Regions from separate parts of the Homo sapiens genome. Here region 1 is linked to region 2. The links come from fine-mapping of genetic effects on gene expression. A gene starts in region 2. The other region holds a variant in brackets. All regions are shown on one strand. Distances are from middle to middle.

Evidence for each region. PIP is the estimated chance that this variant, and not a neighbour inherited with it, causes the effect.
Region 1: its variant is fine-mapped to the expression of QTRT2 in whole blood (TOPMed, PIP 0.96).

What each region holds. Positions count from the first base shown.
Region 1 is chr3:114,110,234-114,113,149 of GRCh38, reverse strand. No RefSeq gene overlaps it. Among named protein-coding and RNA genes, the nearest start is that of QTRT2, 55 kb to the right of the region's middle. RefSeq lists an enhancer at 1,730-2,231. The variant G/A (reference allele first, on the strand shown) is at 1,478.
Region 2 is chr3:114,055,447-114,058,362 of GRCh38, reverse strand. It overlaps QTRT2 (queuine tRNA-ribosyltransferase accessory subunit 2), which reads right to left and starts at 1,626. Exons shown (of 10, transcript NM_024638.4): 1 at 1,499-1,626; 2 at 1,257-1,364. CCDC191 (coiled-coil domain containing 191) reads left to right here and starts at 1,837. Exons shown (of 17, transcript NM_020817.2): 1 at 1,837-1,986. The coding sequence starts at 1,897. RefSeq lists an enhancer at 1,686-2,095.

The sequences.
Region 1 (2,916 bases), 55 kb before region 2:
GCTAATTTTTGTATTCTTTAGTAGAGACAGGGTTTCACTATGTTAGCCAGGCTGGTCTCGAACTCCTGGCCTCAAGATGATCCCCCCGGCCTCAGCCTCCTAAAGTGCTGAGATTACAGGCATGAGCCACCGTGCCTGGTCTTGAACTTTGGATGTAGATTTTTGGAACCAATGCTGGATCTTGTATTCATCATCTATTCGACTTGTTGGTTTTATCCTAGCATTCCAGCCTGCTTAGTCACTGAATTTTAATTACAATAGCTACTGTCTTAGACTTCCCTTGAGATTTGAATTATCTCCAAATGGAAGAATATATTAAAGGGAATGTTGTCATGTTATTGAAAAAACACTGAGGCCTAAATCCTAAGGGTCAGAGTCAGTGTCATACGCTATTTGTAGGACTTGCACAGAATATCACATACTCTTTCAGCTAAATATATCGTTGTATCAGTTAGAATATGTCTTTGCCCCAAATATCAGAAAACCCTGACTCAGATTTTCTTCAACAATGAGGTTTATTTTACTCACTCATGAAGAAGTCTATATGAAGTATGAGCTTCAGACTGGCAGATTCAGTGGCTTAGCAGAGTCATCATGGATTCAAGCTCTTTCCATCTCCCGTCTGCTAACTCCAGAGGTTTGCTTTGCTCTCGAGCTGGCTCCCCACCCTTCACCTCCATAAGTAATGATGGAGCCATTCTAGGAGTCATATCTGTCACAACAATGCTCAGTAACTGCAGAACCACTCTTCTCCTCATGTAATTTCTTTGCCCAATACTCCCAAAACTCCCCCTTTTATCTTATTAACCAGGTTTAAATCACAGCAGCAATCCATCCTAGCAAGGTGAATGGAATACCATGATTGGCTTAGTCTTGAATTAATCATTTGCAGTGGAATAGATGTCAATGCTTGTTTATTGCTCTCTAGTTGATAGAATCTATTCTGTTCCCCTTTGTGAAAAGTTTTCAGCCTTCAGGCACCTCTCCCATTTGCTGTAATTCCCAACAGATTATCGCTTTTCTTTGGATGTAGCCATGTTATTCGTTTGTCCTAAAATACCAGACCCCAGGCCAGGTGCGGTGGCTCACACCTGTAATCCCAACACTTTGGGAGGCTGAGACGGGTGGATTGCTTGAGGTCAGGAGTTCGAGACCAGCCTGGCCAACATGGTGAAACCCCATCTTTACTAAAAATACAAAAATTAGCCAGGCGCAGTGGTATGTGTGTATAGTCCCAGCTACTCAGGAGGCTGAGGCAGGAGAATCACTTGAACCCGAGAGGCAGAGGTTGCAGTAAGCCAAGATTGCACCCTGCACTCCAGTCTGGGTGACAGAGCAAGACTGTCTCAAAACAAACAAACAAAGAAAAAATTGAAGGTTGTATATCCTTACGTCTCTTTCCTTTGGCTCCTTAATCTGAAAGTTGGCTGTCATTTTCACCATGTGCCCTAGGGAGCCAAGCTGAGTTTCATCTTCT[G/A]TTTCCATGGGAAATTCACTCACACAAAGCAATTAACAAGTTTTAGAAGAATTACACAAGATTTGAGCAGAGCAGGGAAGGGGGGTGTGGTAGATCACTGTCTTCCTGGTTTTGTTGCTCCTATACTTGCTTTTCACCATCTTTCTCTCAAATGTGGCCAGGGAGCTCCTAAGTCTTCTCCTATCTTTGAGGCTGAGACTCTGGGGATCTCTGTCCCTTTCCCTAGTGGGATAATATCAGTGTGCTCCTTCTGCGCAAATACAGTCTCTCTCTAAGAGAAATGTCAGTTACAACTACTTTTTGCACCTAGGAGAAGACAGAAGCAAAATGAACACTAAAAAAAAGTAAGCACTGCTGAACTTCTGTTGACATTACACAACCTTACTTCCTCAAAGAGCAGGTTGCTCCATGTTTGTGCTTCTCTTTACTCTAAGTAATGCAGCCTTTAGCGCTTTTTTGTAAAGCTCAGCTTTAGCCTCCTTTATTCTGTTCTTGAAGGTTCATGATAGTCTTTTGTGTTCAAGCTTATCTATAATCCCCTCCCTTTGCTTTCTGTTCATGTCCTTTTCAAAGCCTGAGCTCTGCAGAGAGCTCCCTGTATAACCACCTCCTTCTTTAGCTGTCTCCCCCTTTATCACTGGAATTATTTCCTATTATATTATAATCAGGATTTTATTGTTTAAATCTCCCACCTCTCCCAAGTCATGTTCTTTTAAAGTCTCACATTGCAGAATCACACCTGTGGTAACTACTCTTTTGAAGTGAAGAGTTAATTTGTGATGCAAATAATTACTTCTTTATCTCATTTTCAAAGAGGAATTTTCATAAACTAGGAGCAAATTGTTTCACACCTTTTCCTCCTTTGTCACTTACTCTCCTTCCCCCTTCACTTTCCTTCTGTCCTTTTCCCCTCTGCTTGTTTCCTGCCTCCTTCCAGAATTGGTGTAAACCCCCTGGGTTTCTCTCCCAGGCTCTGCTTTTGTTGAACTGAAATACTTTCTGTTCATGTATTGGAGTGAACCTTTATCATACCAGGCATACTCACCCACCCGCTGCCTCAAGGAAATCTGGTGAGTGAAGGCAAGTGAAGAAAGCACTTTCATAGGGAATTGCCTGTGTCCGTAACCCCTGGCAGCCGGGCTTTTCCGTTTCCTAACTGTCCTGCTTCTATCGCCTTCAATTAAAGTCTACCTTTTTCAGCTGACAAACTCTAAGGAGTAAATGTCTCTATGCCTCTGCTTCCTCAGGAGTAAAATGAGGGCAATTCTCTCTGTCCTGTCTACTTCACAGAACTATTGGGGAAAAAATTAATGTGCAAAGAAATATACATTGGAAAGCATGATTCATATGTAAAAGGATATTCACTGTGTATGCTTAATCATAGGTATGCTGCCTAAAAAATCAAGGACAGGATTTTTGAACATAAAACTGGGCAGGAA
Region 2 (2,916 bases):
AAACTCACTGGAGAGGGAAGTGGGAAGATAAAGAAAAATGAATTAACCTAATAAAAGGCAAGAAAGGAAAAGAGACCAAAAAAAAGAAATAGAAAACACAAAATAAGATGGTAGAATTCCAAATGTCAGTAATCACAATAAAAGTTAAATTAATTTCACATATAGAAAGACAATAATAGCAACTAACATTTATCGGGTATTTACTATGTATTAAGCACTGTTCTTTATATATTCACTCCATTAATCCTCAGATCAAATGCATAATATAGATACCATTATTATCTGCATTTTATGTATGATAAACTGAGGCTGATAAAATCCCCAGCTGGTAAGTGGCAGAGCAAGGACTTTAATTATTGAAGTCTAGTTTTCAGCGCTGTACTCTAATAGGCTGGGAGCTTATTAGAAGTTCCATCTGGTACACAAGCACATTATAATCTTAGTTTCCATTTTGCTATAGTGTTCTTCTTCTTTTCCCTTTCTCCCTCCCGCCTCTAATCCATCCTCCCAGTCTCTGCAATCTTTCTCCATTCTCATACAAATATTTAAACATACTTGCATATGGGAGGGAGTGTTTTGGTCAGGGTTTGCTTTTACAAAAATGGAAACATATTATACTATAATATATGCACTTCTCTGCAATTTGCTTTTCTCTCAAGAATAAACATTAGACGTCTTTCCTGAAGAAGAGACATAAAGCTAACTTACCCTTTTGAAAAAAACTACTTCGTGGTACTGCATAGTTTGTATGAGCACAATTTATTCAACCGCCTTTCAGACAGACCAGTTACAGAGCTGGTCCTAGGATCGCTGCAACAGTCCGAGGGCATAGCTTCCCTAACTTCATTTTCACCAATTTCAAATCAACTTTAGTTTACATTTCCTGGCAGAATGCTTCACATACATTTATTTTTAATCATTACAACACTCCAGTGATTCAGGTATTATCGTCCCCATTTTGCATGAGAAAACAGGGTCTCTGAGTTATTAAACAAGTTGCCTAGGGTCATATAGCCACAAAGTAGTTGAATTCAAAACTCCTGTTCTAAATCTTTACTCTGCTTTATAAGCCCATTTATCACCCCTAAATGGGCTGTCTCTGGAAACACCTCGGCTAAGCCAATAAGCCTGGATTTATCTTTGCTCCATGGGCCATCTCCATGGCCCCAGACCTCCCTAGGCACCTGGCTCAGAGATTGAAGACGGTCCCACCCTCCCATGGGCAGTTCGGAATAAAAACTTCCTGAAAACTCTACCTTTCAGCAGAGGCTAGTCGAAAGGGGCCCTTTTATCTCAGAGGTGTCGGCGACGCTCACACGATTTATGAGAATCTGAACTTACAGAAACCAATCCACCAGGACACCCTGAAAAGGGAAGCAGAGGAGACATGGCGGGAGTACAATCACCGTTACTGCAACACAACCAGGAAGCGTCTGGACGCGACGTGACTCATCCATCTCTAGCAGCTCCCACACCAGCAGGGCAAAGGGGCACTTACCTGCCAACAAACCATTCGACTCTTTCAGTCTTCAGACCCCTCAAACTCCTCACAGTTCACTACCACGTGTTGCAAAATTCTCTGCCCCAAAATCACTGCCTCCAGTGCAGAGCCAATCAGGGAGTACTGCGTCATCACTGGGCGCCAGAAAAAAAGCAAAGCCGACATTCAAGCGAGCCTTGATGACGGCAAGAGCGAGGGACCTCTGCCGTTGCTATGGTAACTGAGCCAACGCGAGCGGCCTGCGCAGAGCCTCGTGGGAGTGGTGGTTCGACGGTGTCCTATGCCTGCTTTCCTTGCGGGCGGAGGAACTACAATTCCCAGCGTGACCCGGAGGCAGCCCGGGCAGAAGGGCGGTTGCTGCAGCTTTGGCCGAGGTTCGGGCTCGAACTTGGAAAATGCTCCTGGCGCCTCAGGGAAGGTCCTTCTCAAAGAAAAGGATGGGGCTGAATCGCTGGAAACGGTTCACAAGGAAGCCGAGTCCCAAGGTGATCCCAATCGAGAGCTTTGGAGGGCGGGGACTTTCCCAAGGCGCGGCGCAGTCAGGAAGCCAGTCGCGGCCCGTCTGTGCTTCCTGCCTCTTCATCCTGAGCTGACACGCCCCTGCCTTGACCGCCCCAAAGCCAGCATTACCCTGAGTGAAATGCTCTAGGAGCTCTGGGGTCTGGGCACATTACGGCTTTGGTGGGCAGCATCGTGGAAGAACTGTTTGTAACGCTTTTCTAAAACCGGAGGTGTCTGCTAATGCCCATCGGGGTGAAAGGAGTTTGCAAACTCCGTTCCCCCTACCTTAAATTTTAGGAAACTTCTCGCACATTTCTTTCTTTTTCTCTCTCTTTTTTTTTTTTTGCAAATCTTGGGGTAATTGATCTTTATTAACGGGAGAGAGCTTCACATTAAATACCCTGCCTATATTCCTGCCCCTTCACTTTTACGTAAAGTATCTAAATAAACTCAGGAGTGCAAATGGATATTGAATACATTAATACTTGATTCACATAGTAATTTCTAAATTCAACCAACTTTCAAAAAATAGATTCTCTCCGTATCTATCACCCATTTGGATGCATTAGCACCTGAAGATAAGAAAAAAATAATAACCCCATTTTAAACTTGAAACATATGTGACATGTGCAAAGTCACAGTTGCACCGTGTGCTTTCCACAGACTACCTTTTTAACAGTCCCCAAAAAGATGCTTAAAATCTAAATGAGAGTACTAAAATGGAGAAGCTTCTCAGCTTTCAGCTACAGAGCAGTTTCACCAGCTGTTTTCACCCTTAAGTTATACTTTCCTAAATAATATTCTGTAGATGTATGTGGCCTTTTTGAGGGCCCCAGGCGATTGTTCTTGCGATTTATTCTAAATTTACCAGCTAAATGCATTGGACATATTCCACATGACAAATATGTTGCCCT